Linked DNA regions of Homo sapiens. The protein of the gene in region 2 purifies or fractionates together with the protein of the main gene of each other region. This does not show direct contact. Each region holds a gene or a part of one and is shown on either strand. Other genes may lie near its edges. The genes, in order: RBM25, MYO1B, MBNL1 and POC5.

Region 1 (5,682 bases), on a different chromosome or scaffold from region 2:
AAGTGAGTGAATCTAGTCCATACTAAATGTTTCCTGAAGTTTATATATGAGATATATATATATATATATATACACACATGTATACAAATACAGGTATACATGTAAACATACATGTATATTTTTAAAGAAAGACTGGAGAAGGGAAATGAGGTGAGTCTAAAATTATGTAAGAAAGTCATGAAGAGGAAAGGACAGATTAAAAAATCATAAATCTTACCTTATTCTCTCTTCAGACTCATCCGTGCTGTAAATGGACGCCCCCTGCCACGCTGATACCCTGACAGTCTGTGGTTATTTAATAAACTCATACCAAAACATGCAAAGGTTCACTGAGCTCATTTTTTGTTACTGGAGTTTCAAACAACCCTTTTAGCCAAACCACCCAATAAAAAACAACTGTTTTGGTTTTTCATTTTGATTTCTTTTTATTTTGAAAAGACATTCTGAAAATTCAAAACATTCCCTCCAGTGAAATAATACTAAGGCAGTAAAATGCCTAACAGATTCCCAAACTTTAAAGCAAATATATTTTTGAATTTTTCTTAAAACATGATTTCCTCATAATTTACCAATAACATGACAGGGTTTAACAAATAAATAAAAACAAAAAGGGGGTAAACCACACACACAACCATATACCATTTTTAAGCTTACTCGGTCCTGAATTTCAGTATTATACCTAACCAAAATTATTCATCTAAAATGATTTCCCATAGACCACCTTTTCAACTCTCAAAATTAATTTTGGGAGAATTATGTTTGTGCTCTTAGACACATTTAATTCTTGAAAAAGCATTGTGTTTGTGAGCAAGGGCTGGGCATCTGGATAGTAAGTGTTCAGCAGCACTGATTCATTGGCATTATTTGTGAACTGCAGATTTTGAAAGCAATGGGAAAAAGTAAGAATAAAAGAGAAAATGAACATTTAACATTTCACTGAGTTAAAGATCTCTCAGTCTATCAGTAAGAACCAGCAACACCTTATTATCTCGACCATCAAAATACATTTCATGCAGTGTTTGCATTGCACCGTTCAAAAGCATCATTTTCAACACCAGCGAACATTCACAGATGCACTGTCATTGAGAGAAGCTTCAAATAGGCAAAACTCGTGAGTGGGATTTACTATGCATAAATACCCATTTCCAAGCCAGTTACCCCTTTGCATATTTTTCTGAGGGGGCATCCATAAATATAATAAAAAACAGAAGCTCATACTTACATCCTATTCCTTGTTACTTTCCAAGCTGAGAGTTTCATCTTGCATTAGTCACCATATGATCTCTATCATAATGGTGGGGGTCAATGAATAGATTAGCTTTATGGGAATTTACAGTTCTTCCATGCATCTAAAATTTGGTAAGTCTGGTAACCACTGACCTACTGTTTAAAATCTCCCCCACTCAACTTAAATCTATACAAATATAAAATGTAAATTTTAATCTCAGCTCTAAAGAAAAGGTATTCCTAAGATCAAGTTAAATAACTGCCCCCAGAAATACACTACAGTGTATGTTATCCTGCTGCCCCCTGAATCTAATTTAAGTCTGACCTTGATGTTTATGTTGAAATCTAAAAATAAAATTAGCTTCTATTCATATTAAAGTGAGATGACTGCAGAATAGTCAGTAACTGAAAAAACTAAGCACAACATGTCAAGGACCACTTTAATATGGTATTGGTCTTCTGTTTCTTTTTTCTATCTAAATATCAATTAAACCTATAAAAAACATTTAAAATTATATTCTAATTTAAGGTTGATTTTTTTTGTCTCTTTGCTTTGGATTCTGTAAAAAGTCTAGATTGGTATCAAGTGAAAAGACAAGAATACTACCTTATGTGTGTCTCTGAATTTGCTGATCTCTCGAGATATCAGGTCTCTTTTGTCTTCTTCCATTTCTATAGCATTTATATCCTCCTAAAAGAAAACGGGCACAGGAGGGAATGAATAAAGAACACCCTACTTCAATATAAACAGTTAAAGGTTAGATATTCTGTATAGGTCTCAAAGAGTAAATAAGTAAACAGAATATCCACAATAACAAATCTAACAATCTAAAGTTAAATAGTGAAAAATCAGATAGACAAGAATGACAAATCAACAATCAGCAGTAAACACAGGTATTGTCAAAGCCTACAATTTAAACTAACCTTAGTGATGAGTGGATAAGGGATCAGTGGGGCCACTGGAAATCTGCGGAAAATCTGTGAAAAAATCCACCAAGAATCTTTTTTAAAAAAGAAAAACAGAGCTCATACTAATCTGCAAAGCAATGCCCTATACATTTATGACGTGAACAATACAGTACACTTCTGTGATGCTTTCTTGATTTCAAATTACTTGGGAATAGAAGTGATTTCACTCTTTTTACAATAACTGATCACACACTACCCTCCTCTCTGGATACTCCAACACCCCCAAGAAATGGAAATATAGAAGGTGCTCTCATAGTAGCAGGGCTTTCTAATCATACCAACAATATTTACCCATAACTCCTGCCACAGAGGAAGAATTTATTATCTCCTCCCAATCCACATCAAACAAATATGTTATTTTTCTCCTTTCCCACTAATGAAGAAAGAGGAAGAATGAATTCTACAGGCCTCAATTACCCTGTACCTTACTGACCCTACCAATTACCATTCCTAACAGAATACACCTCCTTAGAAAAGTTATGGGTCGGGCACGGTGGCTCACGCGGATCACGAGGTCAGCAGATCGAGACCATCCTGGCTAACACAGTGAAACCCATCTCTATTAAAAATACAAAAAAGTAGCTGGGCGTGGCAGCAGGCACGTGTAGTCCCAGCTACTCAGGAGGCTGAGGCAGGAGAATCGCTTGAACCCGGGAGGCAGAGCTTGCAGTGAGCTGAGATCGCAGCTGCTGCACTCCAGCCTGGGCAAGTGAGTGAGACTCCGTCTTGGGTGGGGGTAGGGGCGGGAACAAAAAAGAAAAGTTCTATGACCAAACGAGGAAACACATACCAAATAATAAAAATGTATGTATCTGGCCACAAAGAAAACTGAATATGGCCTAAAAAGGCACTGAAATTTAAAATAATATAAAATGTAACCATCCATTCATAACTAATCATAATATATATACCACGTAGTACTTTTTTATTACATAATGCATGCATATAAAACACGTTGAGCCAGCTATGAGTGATTCACACTTGTAGTCCCAGCACTTTGGAAGGCTGAGGCAGGCAGATCATTTGAGCTCAGGAGTTCAACACCAGCTTGGGCAACATGGTGAAACCCTGTCTCTACAAAAAATACAAAAATTAGCTGGGTATGGTAGCACATGCCTATAGTCTCAGCTTCTCAGGAGGCTAACACATGAGGATCACTTTAGGATGGGTATTCAAGGCTGCAGTGAGCCGTAATTGCGCCACCATCCTCCAGTCTGTGTGACAGAGCAAGATACTGTCTCAAAAACATAAATAAAACACTTCCAATATTTGTGGGATTTTTTTTCTTACTTTATAGAAGGGTCTCGCTCTGTGGCCCAGGCTAGACTCAAGTTCATGGGCTCAAGTAATTCTCCCCTCAGCCTCCCAAGTTGCTGGGACTACATGTGTCAGCCACCACTTCTGGCTTCTTCCAGTATTTTTAAAAGAACACTTCCTATAATTTATCTAAGTTTATCCAAAGGAAATAAGTATGAGAAAACTAAACCTTTTCTTTCAACCTGGACAATTAGCTTAGGGCCACAAAGAGGTAGCAATCAATTCACTGAGGAGGAATGTTTCAAGTTGTACTGCTCTTTCAGAATCCTCCAGTTTGATTATTCAATACCATTATTGTTCAGGGAGGGGAATGTGACATAGTTTCTTAAGGAAAGGCAGCTAAAAATTAAGAGTGGGTGGAAATCTTCAGTGAATCAGATCTGGTTTCTTGCTTAGAACAGAGACAGAACAACCATAGGCAAACAAAGTAAAATAGGGGCCGGGCGCAGTGGCTCATGACTGTAATCCTGGCACTTTAGGAAGCGGAGGCAGGAGGATAACCTGAACCCAGGAGTTGGAGACCAGCCTAGAAAACATAGTGAGACCTTGTCTCTGTAAAAAAGTTTAAAATGTGGCCGGGCACGGTGGCTCACGCCTGTAATCCCAGCACTGTGGGAGGCCGAGGCGGGTCGACCACGAGGTCACGAGATTGAGACCATCCTGGCTAACACGGTGAAACCCCGTCTCTACTAAAAACCAAAAAATTAGCCGGGCATGGTGGCGGATGCCTGTAGTCCCAGCTACTCAGGAGGCTGAGGCAGTAGAATCGCTCGAACCCCGGAGGCGGAGGTTACAGTGAACTGAGATTGCACCACTGCATTCCAGCCTGGGAGACAAAGTGAGCCTCCATCTCAAAAAAAAAAAAAAAAAAAAAAGAAAAGAAAAAAGAAAACTGACATGTAATCAAAGTATAAGAGTGATATCATAAAAAACAAACGGTAGAAATGATATGTTGTTGTCAGAACACATACGTCCTCCTTCTTTTCCTTCTTCTTCTTCCTGGGGTGAGAATCAGATTCCTGTGAGGGGGCATTTAGCTCACTGGAGTATTCACGAATTAAAACTTCAATAGCCCCTTTAATCATCTGATCTCTCCTCTTTGTTTCTTCATCCAAGGCTTCTTCATCGTCATTAGTGACAGTTTCTGGCCTTGCATTCTTAAACAAAACAGCAAATTCAGGGGAAAGAAAAATCAAGCAAGAAAATCAAAATCACTCTACAACAAGAGTTAATAAACATACATGTTTTCTCAAAAACATCTCTGTAGTCCTATTAAACACAGAATTGGTTTTGTTCTTAACATCAGAAAAGCTTCATTTTTTTATTTAACTATTCCTGAGATACTACTTCATTTTCATTTTCTTTTTCTTAATAGCTAAAAAATTCTGGTCCCTAAATTTCAGGACTAGCACACTATACGACACATCTGCAAACCATTCACAAGTTTTCAGACTGTTTTGCTCAATAGGTACACAAATAGTAACGACTCTTTTAAACAGTTGAAAATTCAGTTACGTAGTAAAGGCAAAATACAATTTTAAGTTAATTGTGATAGCTACCACTCAGAAAAAGCAAAATTGTATGTAGATTAAACAAACAAACAAAAACATCAGATTGCTAAATATACCAAACTGCAAGAATCGGGAGTTTAGGGGCTGTAATGATGGCTTATTTCCTATTTGCTTTCTACGAGTGCTTATAATGCAGGAATACATACCACTTATAGAAACCATACACTTACAACCCTAACAAGGAATCAAAGTAAGTATTTGTAGGTCTTTATCAATAATTTTCTGGCCAGGCGCAGTGGCTCACTCCTGTAATCCCAGCACTATGGGAGGCCGAGGCGGGGGCGGATCATGAGGTCAGGAGTTCAAGACCAGCCTGGCCAACATGGTGAAACCCCACTCTACTAAAAATACAAAAATTAGCCGAGTGCGGTGGTGCATGCCTATAATTCCAGCTCCTCGGGAGGCTGAGGCAGGAGAATCGCTTAAAACCGGAAGGCAGTGGTTGCAGTGAGCAGAGATTACGCCACTGCACTCCAGCCTGGGCAAAAGAGCGAAACTCCATCTCAATAATAATAATTATTATTTTCTAAGAAGTCTAGATTATTCCCTCTATGTGGGGAAAATTGTTGGCTTCTAATGTGCTACAATAGTTGTGCTA
Region 2 (5,682 bases):
GAAAATTCTTAATTAGAAAAGAATATAATTTCCTGAGCAATCTAGACATGCAAAGAAGTATATAAGCAGGTAAACAATCTATTGAAAGGTAACCAATTAAGTATAATCAACACAGTAACTCAGATTTCTCCAAAACACTTACATAGATAGATACAATAAATCTGGGGATGCCCCAACCTGTATGCAAATAACTAACTTCTATATTCAGAACCCTAATGAGAAATTGAAGAAGCAAATTTCAAATTTATACCAGTCTCAGATGTCACCACATCAAAGAGGCCTCCCTGACTCTTTTTTTTTTTCTGAGACGGAGTCTCACACTGTCACCCAGGCTGGATTGCGGTGGCACGATCTCGGCTCATTGCAATCTCCGCCTCCCGGGTTCAAGAGATTCTCCTGCCTCAGCCTCTTGAGTAGCTGGGATTACATGCGCCCGCCACCACGCCCAGCTAATTTTTTTTGTATTTTAAGTAGAGACGGTTTCACCATGTTGGCCAGGCTGGTCTCGAACTCCTGACCTCGTGATTCGCCTGCCTCGGCCTCCCAAAGTGCTGGGATTACAGGCGTGAGCCACTGCGCCTGGCCTACTCTCTGACTCTTAACCCTTTTTTTCCTCCATAAACACTTGTTAGCCAAAATCTTATCAACTATTTCATCATTTTATTTGTACATACTGGTCTCTTCCACTAGGATGTCAGGTACATGAGGTTGGAGACTTGGTCAGTGTCATTCACTGCCCATTTATCATGTGGAACAACTACTAGACACATACCTGGTACTTAATAAGTAGTTGTATTAATGAATGAGATCGAGAGCTGAACTAAAACAAAAAAGCTGAAAGAGAAAAAGGGTTTTCAAACAATACATGAACGTACTCATCGGAAATCTCAATATTGAGCTTCTGTTTGGTTTGGCTGAGAGTTGTGCGATAGAGCTTGGTGGCCATTTCAATCAGGTGATCACTGCTGAAGAGAAAGTCTCCTTTACTAGCTGCTTCTGAGCCCTGCAAGGACAAACCAAGAGTCGGTCATAATTAAAGATACCTTAGAAGGTCAATATTTACAGGCTTGGCTAAAAACATACTTACAGTCTCTTTAAAACATCAGATCCTGGAATCCATTCTCCCAAGGTAAACAATAATGACAAAAGCAGTGTTTCTTCCAACTTGCTCAGAGCACTTTAGTAAGGTTACCTAATCCCCTTCTACCTAAAGTCGGTGGATGCAGCAGAAGCACCATGTGCATCACTTGGAGCTTGCTAGAAAAGCAGAATCTCAGGCCCTACCACAGCCCCAGTGAATATGAAACCACAACGCAACCTCCAGGTATGGGTTTACACATTCAGGTTTGAGGAGCATGGACCTATCCCGCAACTCTTCTGAAGGACTTGATTAAAAAACTTTTCAGTGATTTGGTTAAAACCCTAATGACAACACTTCCAACAAATATCCTAGGGCAGTGGCTCTCAGCCTTAGCTGTGCAAGGGAATCATCTGGGTTTATTCAAAAAAAAAACAAAACAAAACAAAAAAAAAAACATGATGCTTGTGCCCCCTCTGAGAAATTCTAATTTGATTTCATAGGGGTATGGCCTGGGCATCAGAATTTTTAAAGTTCCCAAGCTGTTTACATGTGTCACTGAGGTTGAGAATCACTGTCCTAGTATTTGATATGCCCCCTTTAAGTTAAGATCCAAAGTAGGGTAAACAGGCTAAGGGAAGCTTTGGGGATTTTTCTAAGTTTAGGGTTGGCCAGAGAGTAACATTATTAGCTAGACACATGTCCCTACATATGATCAATATTTGTTAACTTTTGTTTATTCAGTGACTATGTGTTATGTGACAGGCCCTGTTCCTCCAGTGTCTCATTTAATCCTTAATCCTTACAACAATGCTATGAAGTAGGCACTCTTACTATCCCCATTTTAAAGATGAGAAAAAGTAGGTAGGCACACACAAATTAAATGCCTTGGCCAAAATTATCATAAAGTGAGTGAGACCAACTCCAGAACCTACATGTAACCACTGCATCCAAGCCAGGAGTCCTGGTTAAGCTAAAGGCACAGAACACTAAAAATTATTTAGGTTAAAATTAACTGGCGGTTATTTTATTTTAGTTGTATCCTTTAATGTAAACCCCCAGATTAGAGATGAACATTAAGACATTTACTAAGTTGATACATAGAAGAAAAAACAGGAGAAAACAAAATTTAAAACATCTTGATATTTCTATGTATTAGTCTCAAAAAGTAAAGTAAACTGGCCAATAAAAGTGATTAACTTTATTCAATTACTGAAAAACTGAGTCGGAGATTTTACATAGGGGTGAATATCCAAAATTTGCAAATTAGCAAGGCAGATATATAAACTGCGATAGGATTATCAGATATGGAAATTTTTTAAATCAATGGCTGAGAGATTAAGCACAGAAATCTTCTGTTGAACCTTTACCTCTTTGAGGTGGACGGCGAAGAAGCCATCATTTTGTGAGCTCATTGATACCTTGGTCACATCCACCAATGGAACCTCTGACTTGATTTGTCCAGACTTTTGGTCAGCAAGAAGGAGATTATTGTTTGTTAAGAGGAAAATCCGAGATGTACTCTAAATCAAAATAAAAAATAGTATAAAACCAATGATCACAAATACTCAAAAATGGTCCATGAGTTTAAGGCATTATTTGCAAAAATTCCAATATCCTTCAACAAACATACCTATGTAAACCAAGAACGCAGTAAAGAACATAAATAATATGTTTTATTTCATAAAAATGTCAGAGAACAAGCAAAATTCCACCTAAGCTTAAAGGTAAGGGGAAATAGCCGCCTTCATAGTTAACTCTACTGAGAACATGAAATGCAAATTTTTACATTCAGAAAACAGGGTGACTATCCCAACTAATAGGTACTTCTTATCAGTCTTCAAGGTTAGCATTTTTACCTTCCCATTAGCACGGTTAATTTTGTTCACGACTTCAGCAATGATGATCTTTTCTTCAATGGCATCTTTGAGTTTCTTATACTTGGGGTTCTTGTTGATTTCCAGGTAAGCCCCTTGGAATGGTTGCCCAACACTAAAGGAAAAAAATTCCTGCACATTAGAAATAGTTTCAAATGAAAGTACCACTAAAAAAAGGAAACAGGTCAGTTGATTCTAAGGAGTAGCTGACAACTTCATAAAAATTGATTTCAATTTATTTTATATATTACACTTACATCTGTCCTAAATATAAGTTGGAAATGAAACCTTAAACCTATTTCAAATACACTTTTGGGGTGATCATGGCATTTGGTGGGCAGGACTTTGATAATAATCTTATCACACGGAACAATCAAGACAGAAATCACTCATAAGAACAACAGCTAAGACTCAAGTACATGGCCTCATGTGAAGGAAAAGGCAATTTCTTCTAATCTGTTAATATAAAGTTAACAGCTGCTCACAAAGGATTTACTAACGCCTTCAAACAATATGTGGCAGTGAAAAGAGCTGAAATCATTACCATCACCTGCTCTAAAGAAAAATTTCATTTCTTGCAGAGAATAAGAAAATCAATAGGCCTTCTGGGAAAGAACAGATCCAGGGCAATCACTTTAGAAGAAAACTATAGAACACTTAATATTAACATGTAACTGTGGTTCTAAGTAGGCAATACAGATGGTCTCTGACTTGGTTTGACTTAGGGTTTTTCAGCTTTACAGTGGTGCTCATAAACCATTCTGTTTTTCACTTTCAGTACAGTGGTCAATAAACCACATGAGATATCCAACACTTTATTATAAAACAGGCTTTGTGTTAGATGATTTTGCCCAACTGTAGGCTAATGTAAGTGTGCTGAGCATGTTTAAGGTAGGCTAGGCTAAGTGATTGTGTTCAGTAGGTTAGGTGTATTAAATGCATTTTCAACTTATGATATTTTCAACTTCATATGACATATGACAACTTCATAAAAATTGACTTCAATTTATTTTATACATTACGCTTGCATCTGTCCTAAATATAAGTTGGAAATGAAACCTTAAACCTATTTCAAATATATTTTTGAGGTGATCATGGCATTTGGTGGGCAGGACTTTGATAATAATCTCATCACATGGAACAATCAAGATAGAAATCACTCATAACCCATATGATGGATTATCTGTGTGTAACTGCATCATAAGTTAAGCAGCATCTGTATATGAAAGGAGAATCAAGCCTCTTCTCCTAGAATATGCCTCTAAATGGACAGAAGTAACCAAAGCAAACATTCAGAATCAGGGCAATTTTTTTTTTCCCAAACAAACTAATTTTTGTAAAAGGTTAACTGTACACTTATCACTAAGATATCAATTTCCCTAAAGACTTGTCGGGGGACTCTTTCAGGACAGGTTCATCAAAGGCACCAAGGAAAAACTGCTGCTTCAAGGAATCTATAAGCTTCATTTTGAGCTACAAAGTTCTGGCAATTTGCAAATACAAATTTAAATGCTTATGTTGTGGGTGGAGGATAAGGGAAGAAAAATCCACGTAGGTGGTCAGCGTTTCACAGCTCTCAGGATATAAAAGGCCAACTCCCATAAGAGCTGCCACTTTGCAGGGTGGTGGGAGGCTAAATTATTCCACCTCTCTCACTGCTGTGGGGTGAGTGTGCCACTATCCCTGAAAACTGATAAGACTACCCAAAAAGGACTTGGCTTGAAGTTAACTTTTTTTGGTTCCTATTCAACTGTGTTTTAAATTATAAAAATGCTAACAGGCTTTTAAATTGTTTCCTCAAAGATGTATTTTCCAGCCTGTAGTTTCTGAAGAGTCATCCACAGGAAATGTTCATTAAGAAGGTTATTCCCTAATTTAAAAATGTATAAAAAAAAAGCTGAATAAAATTAGTTGCTGAAGCAAGCATACAGACAAATTCTCCTGTTTGAATATGCTTTATATAACAGGCACTTTGGACAACTTTGGATTTAGACACTGTGTTTGACTTAAGGGAGTATGTATCACCTCAAGTAGCCACATCAGCTAACCAATGAAGTTGTACAATTTAAAATATTTAAACCCAGTGAGTCTGGCAATGTATATTCCTTTAATCCTTTAAAAGGAAGATATTTTAAATGTGTATAAAGTCACAGAGAATATAAACATAATTTACGTAATAAATGTGAATATACTCAGCATATAATACATTCTTTCTTTGGCCATTCATTGGAAGAAGCTTAAAGTTGTTACAGATTTGGCTTGAAATTGTACAATCTACTTTTTTATAAACACCAGATGAAAATGGGATTAGATTGCTGGGAGGAAGTGATGAATGCAGGAGATGTAAGACTATTGGGATAAACAGTCTTTACCAAGGACTTCACTTGCTGAACTTGGGATTGGTGTTCCTTCTTTTTCTGAGTCCACGGTGTCTAAAATAAAGGAACTGAACGTGCTGTACAGGCCACAGAAGTCATATCCGTTGAGTTAGCAGACCAAAGGGCACCACAGACCAGTGCTCAAGCAACACTCAAAAAGTACTGTCCTGGCTCGCTCTTTCATTTACCTTACAAATAAGTTTCTGACCTTGCTTGCTATGGCAGGAAGACTGGAATGGTGATTAAAGTATATTGCCAACAGAAATTTGGCTAGTCTTTGAAAACTACGGAAAAGGAACAGGAATTTACAATGCAAACGTATCTTAACAGCCTATATAATTTTTATGTT
Region 3 (4,858 bases), on a different chromosome or scaffold from region 2:
CACACACCCCTCAGGAGTAATATCATGGCCTGCCTCATAGATCATATGCATAATTTCTTTCATCCCTCTGAATACAGTGCCATCACCTCTCTTGGATTGCCTGATTTCCAGTCCTAATCAGCTGACGCAGCAGTCAGGCAAATAAGATTTCTTTAATAAAAGATAGATAGTGATCTATAATGTATAATAATTTTTTTCTTACCGTTTTTTGCCCTGACACTTAAAACTATTTCAATCAGCGCTTAAAGTGTCAGACAGGGGAAGGCAAGAATTTCAGAAAACATTGGGCACAGGAGGGCAATATATGCTGATTTAGATTCTCCCTCTCAGTGTCAAAGGATAATTAGTGAGAAAGACAACAAATGCCTTCCTCGCAGTTGCAATCAGTTAAAACCAGGTAACAAATTTATACATCAATATGTTTGTAAAGATAGATACATATGCATGAATACATGAAACACGCAAAAATAATTTAGTATTCAATCTCAGATACACGAATATACTTAAGAAAGAGAAGTTTTATTAGGGCAATTTCACTTTATTTTTCCATACAGCAAAGTCAACTACTGCAGTAATAATAAAATAAGCATAAAACAAATTGCAGCCCAAGACAAAATACATAATTTTAAGCAACTACAAGCAGAAAGTAAGTTGTGATTACATAATAGTAAAACCAAGCACATTTGTCCTTTCAGCAGATGAAAGTGGTAGGGTTGCTGATAAGTGCAACATTTTTAACCAGCTGGAGTGAAGGCTGGATACACTAATTCTTTTAAACAAGTGCCCATTATCACATTTTGCATTTTTGAGTGCTTCTGAGTTGAAAATTAAAACCATGAAATTTGAACTGCGTTTTATTTTTCACCTGCTGAAAGAACAGGATCCTACAGCAATTAAAAAACAATCACATAACAACTATAGCTACAGTGTGCTGTTTGGTTTGCCTGTTTATGATTTAAATTTTGTGAAAGTCAATACTTGTTTTGAAGATTTTTTTGTGAACAATAAACCACTGAAATTGGCAGAAACTGATCTGAATAATATATGTTCTTAGTATAGTTCTTTCTCTCTTTTTTTGTTGAAGTTTTAAACATGCAGTAGTTTTGAAAAATGTAAGGAATATCTGATCCATGATTTCACCTTAATGGTAGAAGTACCTGCTATTTTTGGTAATGATCTTCAGGCAGATTTGGCCCCATGGAGTTTTTGTCAGTCATGAGGGTTTGAAAGGATGGCGTATCTTTCCAGCTGAAAAAATCCTGGCAAACTACAAGCTGTCCACAAGAAAGCAAAGCAACATGTTTGAAGGGGTATGGAGTGCTAACTCTGTGCCACTTTTGCAAGCAATTTTGCTCAGTCTGTCATTGTATTAGCCTTAACAAAACTCCTTGTAATTATAGACGTTTTTATTCAAAATAAGATCTTACTATTATACAGGTTTCTCTCTTTTGACTATATACAGAAGTGCAAAAAGTCAACCTTCTCCCTAGACGTTCCAACATGCTAAATTGCAGCATAATCAACCCTCAAGAGTTTGCACACACGCTATAATTTTCATTACGTAAACTTTGAGTATTTGGATTATCAACAAAAAGTCCCTTGTTCTATTTATTGATTATGCAGCTTATTTATAACAAGGCCTGATACTCAGGGATTTCAAAAATATTAAACAATATTTTAACATTTGAAATGGATACAGTAGAAAATAAATTTTATTCTAATATCTAGGATCTAGATCTTCTTATAATAACTAATTACAAACAAAATAAATCATCAAAATATTACTCAATTGTCTGCCAGGATTGTTGCGATAGCAACAACTTAACTTCTTACTTAGCAATGATTATATATTTATAAGATATCCATATAAAAGATCTTTGTTCTTTTAATGAAAACTAGACAAGAACTAACAATGACTGACATTCTTACACTGTAATATTAAATCAGTAAAATATAAATCATTTAGTTAACAATACGAATATTCATGTGACACTACATGTAATTCAAAACTGAGTATGTTATGAAGGAAAAACTACTTTTTTTTGTATTTTGAAAAATTCATTGGTAAAATCTAATAAAACAAGTCTATAAACTGAAATGGTATTCAATTGTTAATAGAAAATGAAAATCTAATAAATGTAGGAAATGAAAAACTACATTTTAACAAGAAAAATAAGTAATATTCTATAATGTAACTAACTACAATAACATGTGAAGTCACCATTACTTTCTTAACACGATTGAAATTACATTGGTATGGGTTCCAACCCGTAATGTAATAATCTAAGGCTTTAATAGATGTACAGTACAATCAGTAAAATCAACACATCAGTCTTATATTAGAAAGCATCTCTCTCAAGCATAAAAACTTGCAGTAAACTTGGAAGTATGGAAAGTTCTATAACTGAACTTTCACTTCTCCCATTCCATACTATAACTACCAGTGACCTGGCCCCTACTTCAGCAATTTTTAGAACTGCTGAACAGAGCAAAAATATCCTTTACTAGCTGCAACATCCAAACCTCAAAAAAAGGAATTCCTTTGGATGATTCCATTCTTAAAAACTGAATGCACATCTATTTTTTTTTTAATTTTGTAAAAGGCTTTCTAAGGCTATAAGCAGTTAATCTGAACAAAACAAAACAAAACAAAAATCACATATAAAATTCACCCATGTACTTAACCCACCCAATTACTAGGTTAATTAAACATTTCCCATTTTCATATTTTGGTTTATCATGCATCTGATGACAGTGCTGCTTTCTTCTTTGTTTAGAGTCACTATTTTGAATGTGACTGTGATGAAGCATTTAAGCAAACGTGAAACCATTTTTGCAAAGCATTTATAGTCTTTTGACTTTTGACAGAGGCTATAAATAGAAGCAAAATAATTTCCTCATTTTTTTGTTACTGTGTCTCAGAAATGGCAATCCCTTTTGAATAACATGTTATACAGTATAGTATGCATAAATATTACACTACAATGCATTAAAATAATTTTATATATATCTATTATATATATATCTCCAGTATGTGTGAGTTTATCTGTATTGAGAGAGTTTGTGTTGTGCTGTCTATTGTTACTGTAAAGTTAAATTGGCCATTTCTGAGACAGCTTTGGTTTCAAAAAAAAAAAAAAAGAATGGTGCCCTTTGACTGATTAGTACTAGCAAATATGCAACAAAATGTGGCTCTGAAAACAATAACACTGAAGAAATAATACTCTAATTTGATGTACAGTCTATGGCACTTCATGAGAATCCTTAACAACATGGTACTTAAAGCCATGATGTGCTTTAAAATATACACAGTTGTGGTTTTGCTTGGCACATTCATCTCTGTCAGATCCCTCCCTCACCACGTCTTACAATCTATTACATTAAAAATATTACTCTTAAACAAAAATGACTGTGCATGCACGCTCTCATCTATAATGGCAATTTTAAATACAAGGTGCACCTTTGTTATTTGTAAACCTTGAAAGAAATAAACTTATTTTTAAAAAATTATATCTTGGTCTACAGACGTACCAATACATAATAGAATCATGGTTACACCATAGTCTGTCTTTTCAAGATGGCATGAATATATAGGAAACTAACTAGGTATGCATCTTTGAATGCATAACTCTGTGCTAGAAAAGAAAGACAATGTTGTTCTTTTAGACAGGAATATCACCTCAGCACAAATATCAATTAAATGTACAAAGTGTATAGGCAACAGTGTGCAGTGGATTTCCGGAAAATGTTGTCTTTTCTTCTGGTTAACATGCAATATGTGGATGTCTTGTGGCTGAGGAACTTTTGTGTGTGTTGCTTGACGATATATACAATATGGCTAATGACCTCGTCCTTTACTCTAACCAAGCACACTGTCCTTTCCTCTTTAGCATGATCTACAAGGGAAAAAGAGATAAGCTTTGTTAGAACAGGTAATATCTAAAAGCAGTTTCTAATATACATTTAATATGAAAATTTTCTTTTTGATTAACCAGTATATTTACATTATATCTTCATATAAAAACAAAAACCATTTTACAAGAGTAGACAGATCAAAATTTGTCTATCATCTCTACACGAATGAAATAACACGTACAATTTAATAAAACTGTAGAATGTGCTCCAAAATTTACCAATCCTAAACTAAAAGTATAAAATACATTTGCAGAATCAGGGGGCCTAATATACAGAGCTCTTTTTTAGCACAATTGTTGTAGGGCAAAATTTAAACTTCTTTTCTGAAGTTTAATAAGGTTTCAAGAGTAAAGGTCTGGTCTACAAAATTAAAATTCATGTAATATGTTCTATTAAACAAGATTTATTCTTTTTGGGTGCTTGATTAGCATAATGCATGTTTGAAAAAAAAAGAATGATACTTTAAGTGATGGCTTTGGGTAATTCAGTTTGTTGAACTTTTTTCACCTAAAACTAAGAAAATAAAAATCATTCTTTTTGAATTACAGAATTATTACTCATGAATTAAGCTGTAATAGACATTACAATGTACTTGTGGATTAACAGTTCCAGTTTTTACATGAAATTTGTTCTCAGCAGCGAATATTTACATATATTAAAAGTATGCTTCACAATACAACCTTGAAAATGAAAGAAATCATAATCTAGTGACTCAAAAACCAGTTTAAATGTTGCAACTCCTCATGAAGATGAGCAATCATTTGTTAAATGAACAGAACATTAAAAGCTTAGCTTCAATACAGACAAAACTACTGGTTTGCTAATTATTTTTAGAAATTTTTTTCAACCTGGATTATTGCTAAGAAACAGAATTTAGTTAAATATATACATACCAAACACACCTAATTGACTATAAGAGCTTGAAACAGATTTTTCTGGCATG
Region 4 (5,682 bases), on a different chromosome or scaffold from region 2:
GATTTGGGCAAATGGCCACCCAGCTACATTTCCCAGCCTCCTCTGCAGCTAGGTGTGGCCAAGAGACCTGGTCTATGGGATTCAACTGGAAATGATGTGTACAACTTTAGGTGAAGTCCTTAAAAACGAAGCTGCTTCCTGCTGGTCCCCTCTTCCCATGGGCTAGTGGTAGTACACTGTCAGTGCACCAGTACCTGACAATGCAAACACGGTCAACAGCTCATGGTACAGCAAAAAGAGAGAAGGGATTGGGTCCTCAGATGATCTCAGGACTACGTATCAGCTCAGAATTTATGAGAGACAGAATGAAACTGTAAGGAACCCACTTAAACCACCCTTACTTGGTTTCTGTTAAAGCACTATTATACTTCCCAAACACCCAAAATATACTTTTGATTTTGGCTAAGAATATATAAAAGTGTGGCTGTTATGGAGTTACGGAGTCTGAATGTTTGTGTCCCCTCAAAATTCATATGCTGAAGCCCTAACACCCAGTGTGGCTGTATTTGGAGATGAGGCCTTCAAGAAAGTAATTAAGGTTAAATAAGGTCATTGGTTGGGGCCCTGAGAGCATTAATGTACTCATCAGAAGAGACACCAGGAACCTTGTGCATGCTCTCCTCCCACCTGCACATACTGTACTGAGGAAAGGCCATGCAAAGATACAGCAAGAAGGCACCTGTCTGCAATCCACAAAGAGAGCCCTCACCAGAAACTGACCCTTTTGGGCTGTGATCTGGGACTTCTAGCCTCCAGAACTGTGAGAAGATAAATGTCTGTTGTTTAAGCCTATGAATTTATGGTACTTTGTTATGGTAGCCTGAGCAGATTAATATGATGGTGATCTTATATTGTGAGGTTCATAAACTTTTTATAGTGTTCCTGCTGTGGTGTCAGTTGCAACTAGATTTAGCCAAGTCAGCTCTACTCAGAGTTAGCCTATCACCACCTCTAGCATGTAGGAACGGAGGGAGAAGTGGAAGTCAGTGGCTTTCACTTGTGGCTTCCCTAGTCTGACTTCTGCTCTGGATAAGAGAAGGAAAAAAAAGATCCAAACACATATTTCAAATCATATACTTCATACATATTCATATATTTCATATATTTTACCACAATTGCTATGGCTTAAAGGGGAAATAAATAAGTATATGTCAATAGTATTCCATGACCATATATTCCAACTTATTTCAAGAAAACATTTAGAAAAAATCAGTTATTTAAATGACTATTTTAGAGTTTCATATATGTAGACACAAGCCAAATAAGTTATTTAAAAATAAAATTTAAAATTAAGAATCAAAATAAACAATATTGGCTTTCTTAATTGCCAAACATAACCTCTGTTAACATTCAAAACTTGTAATTTTGCCCCCCTCCCCAACCCCCAAGAGCTGAATTGATATGACCCTGAAATATAGCTCCACCCATGCCTCAACCATTAGAGTCAGAGCAACTTGGCTGATAGGAGCTGTGGTTAGAGGAAATTTTCAGTGTATAAGCACTATGGATGCTGCCCATCCCTCAGCATTTACCACCTTCTGGCTTATGAAGCATTCGCATAAAAAGAGAGTAACAAAAAAGTTCCTTAAGAGGAATATTTATTTATGAGGGGCTTTTGTATTAAATGTTTGGATTTACATATTTACTACATATGTAAAAATGTGTATTTTATGTTATTTTTAAGATTTTTTTTTGTATTTATATTTTGAAGTGCTTCCAGTAGTGAAACCCAAAGTAATAACACTGTATGTACAGGGAATATGGAGAGGCTTTCAACTTCAGTCCAAGAACCAGTAGGAACATTAGTTGACAGTAATAGACTCTCAGTTGAGCTTACATTATAGGTGGGTAAACAATAACACAAAATAATTTCTGGCAGGTTCTTCTTCCGTCTCTCTAAAATTCCACTCTAGAGAGTTATTCTTTTGATTTAAAGCTTTATCTCTTCACGAAATGAAATTTGAGAGCTCACAAGGTGTTTACATTTTAGTATAAATGAGTTAATCAGTTCTATCTTCAAGTTTCAATCAGACAGCGATGAAGGGTGGAGGAAGTACTGTCACCTGAAGAGAGGACTACATGGGACAGGTACCATCAAAAGGGAAGGCTAGGGTGCAAAAGCTCTGCCACAACTCCAGACTAGTTTTATCCTGTAAATATTCAGATATTTTCCCAATACCTTCCCCATTTTGAAATCCATAATTTCGATTAAAGGAACAAATTTGTTTCATAAAATATTTTCCTAAAGCTTTTCTCATATCGTACAGAATCAATAACAATTTCATATGCTTAGGCATAAACAGCCTTTCCCCTTGAGTAATACAACTGTAAAATTTAAGATATACCATGTCATTATTCTCATATTTAAAATCTACTCCAGAAATCTAAATCCATATTTTTGATGATGAAATATTTAGAAATAAGAGAAATTTAAAACATTTCATGTAAATACCACACCCTCTGTAGTTAACTGACCCACTTCATTTTATCTGTCAATGTCCAGGTCCTGGGCAGCAGATTGTACTGAATGTTGTGACAACAGAGACCAAACCTCAGCAAGTAGAACACAAGGGAATCTTGAGCTCTAGAACTTTGGATGGTTTGATATTGTATTAATTTGCATTAAAAGTGAAAGTAGCATTCATGAGAGGTAGCTAAAATGAAAAAAATTTAAACAAAAAAATGTTTCTTGAACATTTGTTTCACCTCTTACTGTGTTGGTTGAAGCCTTTGTACAGAGTGTATGAAGAGTTCATCAATATTTTCTGAAAAGTTAAAACAATGTAAAGTCACTCCTAAAATGTGTACAGTAATTCCTGAAGTTTGATATTATTATAAATTGAAAAACTCCCTTGTAAATGGATGAAAAAATTATTAAAAAATCCTAGTTTTCCCTTACATTCATTTGTTTAAAATAAAAAAAGTCATGGTAAATTTAGAAATTTTTTCCTACCTGAAGATTCGAAGAGACAGAACTGCCTCGACTGGAGTCATTTTGCACAACTGGAAGTGAGTATTTCTCCTCATCTGATGACATTCTGCACAAATGCTCTAAAACAGTAGAAGCTAACTTTAGCTTTTTTCCTTGATATTTAAGATAAAATCCTTTCCAGATATATATAAGTGCAACAGTATCCAAATCTGCAATCTTCCTGTGATATGCTAAAATCATTCATTCAACATATTGAGTACCTACAGGCAAAAAATCACTGGGCAAAAAACAGTTGAAGACCCAGTCCCAATATTAGTGAGTTTATAACGTAGTCAGGTCTTCAGAAAAATCCCCAGCGGGGCCTGTTGAGCATAATAGATTGTGATCACTGTTCTTGAGCAATGTGTGACAACCTGGGTGCTGTGTACTTTCCTCTAAGACACAGAACCAAGAGAGAACAAACAATTTGTGCAAATTCCCTTCTTGGGAAACTTACCTTTGGAAATATTATTTTAAGAAAAGTGAGCTTATACAGAACAACAGAATCAAATATATGCATAGAGAATTTGTTGAAAGTCCTAATCAAAAAATCATTAAAAGTACTTTTAGTAACAAGTAACCGAATTATTCAAAGAACAAATAGTGACTATTCGAACTATCTGAATACCAGTAATATGTAAGACATTGGTGAGGAATGTAAAATGAAGTCCTCATTCTTAAGGAGTTTACAATCTGTAGAGAGGGCCAGGCATGTATATTATATAAGTGACCGACTGATGAATAAACTGCTGATAGGCCCTAAAATAACAGATACAAAGTAGAGAGATAGGAGTAGCTATTTTTCATGGGGTAAGATTGCATGACTGTAAATAAGCAGGAAAGGAGGCACAGAAAGTTTTTAGAGAAGATGACCCAGGTGTTGAGATCTGAAAGATGAGTAGGTCTCATCCTGAAAGATGGATAAAAGGTATAAACACAGGTGTAGATATTCTAGGCAGTAGAGCAATATAAGCAAAGACAGAGCCATGGACATGTATGCCACGAACAGCAAGCAGTTTGGTAAGGACAAAGCAATGGGTGCAAAGGATTGGCTAAGGATGAAACAAAAAGTAAGGAGCAGCCAGATCATGGAAGGTCAAAACTTGTCATATTAAAAATCTGGGTGTTTATTCTAGACAAGTTATTGAAATATTTTTTAAAAGTTACATGATCAGAAAGATCATTCCAGCAGCGTTGAGGATGAATTTGGATATTAAGAGAGATCAGGCTGGGTGCAGTGAATCATGCCTGTAATCCTAGCACTTTGGGAGGCTGAGGTAGGTGGATCACCTGAGGTCAGGAGTTTGAGACCAGCCTGGCCAACATGGCGAAACCCTGTCTCTATTAAAAATACAAAACAATTAGCCGAGCCTGGTGGCAGGTGCCTGTAATCCCAGCTACTTGGGAGGCTGAGGCAGGAGAATAGCTAGAACCCTGGGGGTGGAGGCTGCAGTGAGCCAAGATCGCACCACTGCACTCCAGCCTGGGTGACAGAGACTCCGTCTCAAAAAAAAAAGAGAGAGAGATCAATTGAGAGCTGACTGCAGTAGTCTAAGAGATAAATGTTCTCTTTGATAGTAATTAAGAAGATAAATGATGACCTAAGTCTAGGAAGTAGCAATGGGAAGGGGATGGAGGGTATGACTACAAGACAGTTGTGTTATGGTGATGGAAAGAGAAAATGATCAATAATAGATCAAGGGGTTAAAAAGAACTGTTGGTGGCTTCCAGATCTCCGGTTTGGGTAACTAGATGGATAGTGCCACTCACCAAGGCAAGGAAGGTAGGAAGATGAGCAGGTTGGGAGGAAGGACAATGAGTGCCATATCAGATGAGCTGGGTGTGAGGATGCCTCTGAGGCACTAGGGTAAAGCTGCAAGTATGCAGTCTGTGGTCACACTGGCTACGTAGTGCGCTACTCCAAGAACTGCCATTCACAATGGCTACACTGTGAATGGTGTTTCCTGGAGTTAAGCATTGTGGGAGCGCCGCACTGGAGGTATAAGTTGGAGATCCAGTTTGAGGAATCACTGGCATAATGGGAACTGCTGAAAAAAGGGAATGGATGAGACCACCTATAAAAAAGGAATGTGAGAAAAAGTTCTTATCCTGAGGTCCTGTATTAGTACGTTTTTCAAACTGCTATAAAGAACTGCCCAGGCCGGGCACGGTGGCTCATGCCTGCAATCCCAGCACTTTGGGAGGCTGAGGTGGGAGGATTACGAGGTCAGGAGATCAAGACCATACTAGCTAACACGGTGAAACCCCGTCTCCACTAAATACAAAAAATTAGCCTGGCGTGGTGGTGGGCGCCTGTAGTCCCAGCTACTTGGGAGGCTGAGGCAGGAGAATGGCGTGAACCCGGGAGGCGGAGCTCATAGTGAGCCAAGATCGCGCCGCTGCACTCCAGCCTGGGCGACAGAGTGAGACTCCGTCTCAAAAAAAAAAAAAAAAAAAAAGAACTGCCCAAAACTGGGTAATTTATAAATAAAAGAATTTTTATTGACTCACAGTTCCGCATGTCTGGGGAGGCCTCAGGAAACTTAAAATCATGGTAGAAGGGGAAGCAGGCACATCTTAGATGGCGGCAGGTGAGACAGTATGTGAGAGAGTGCAGGAAAAACTACCATTTATAAAACCATCAGATCTCGTGAGAATTCACTATCATGAGAACAGCACGGGGGAAATCGCCCTTATAATCCAATCACTTC

What was found.
Region 1: the proteins of MYO1B (region 2) and RBM25 purify together in Homo sapiens (affinity purification with mass spectrometry; one large-scale study listed by BioGRID and IntAct). This does not show direct contact.
Region 3: the proteins of MYO1B (region 2) and MBNL1 purify together in Homo sapiens (affinity purification with mass spectrometry; one large-scale study listed by BioGRID and IntAct). This does not show direct contact.
Region 4: the proteins of MYO1B (region 2) and POC5 purify together in Homo sapiens (co-immunoprecipitation; one large-scale study listed by IntAct). This does not show direct contact.

The regions. Positions count from the first base shown.
Region 1 is NC_000014.9:73,095,903-73,101,584, reverse strand, and holds part of RBM25 (RNA-binding protein 25), read right to left. Parts: intron 4,671-5,682; coding exon 4,485-4,670; intron 2,206-4,484; coding exon 2,152-2,205; intron 1,919-2,151; coding exon 1,835-1,918; intron 1-1,834. UniProt on the Homo sapiens protein: RNA-binding protein that acts as a regulator of alternative pre-mRNA splicing. Involved in apoptotic cell death through the regulation of the apoptotic factor BCL2L1 isoform expression.
Region 2 is NC_000002.12:191,411,436-191,417,117, reverse strand, and holds part of MYO1B (unconventional myosin-Ib), read right to left. Parts: intron 3,071-5,682; coding exon 2,938-3,070; intron 2,602-2,937; coding exon 2,449-2,601; intron 1,004-2,448; coding exon 876-1,003; intron 1-875. UniProt on the Homo sapiens protein: Motor protein that may participate in process critical to neuronal development and function such as cell migration, neurite outgrowth and vesicular transport.
Region 3 is NC_000003.12:152,461,423-152,466,280, reverse strand, and holds the end of MBNL1 (muscleblind-like protein 1), read right to left. Parts: intron 3,897-4,858; 3' UTR 501-3,896; downstream 1-500. UniProt on the Homo sapiens protein: Mediates pre-mRNA alternative splicing regulation. Acts either as activator or repressor of splicing on specific pre-mRNA targets. Inhibits cardiac troponin-T (TNNT2) pre-mRNA exon inclusion but induces insulin receptor (IR) pre-mRNA exon inclusion in muscle.
Region 4 is NC_000005.10:75,709,901-75,715,582, forward strand, and holds part of POC5 (centrosomal protein POC5), read right to left. Parts: intron 3,052-5,682; 5' UTR 3,038-3,051; coding exon 2,954-3,037; intron 2,761-2,953; exon of another isoform or gene 2,707-2,760; intron 2,533-2,706; exon of another isoform or gene 2,485-2,532; coding exon of another isoform or gene 2,476-2,484; intron 1-2,475. UniProt on the Homo sapiens protein: Essential for the assembly of the distal half of centrioles, required for centriole elongation. Acts as a negative regulator of centriole elongation.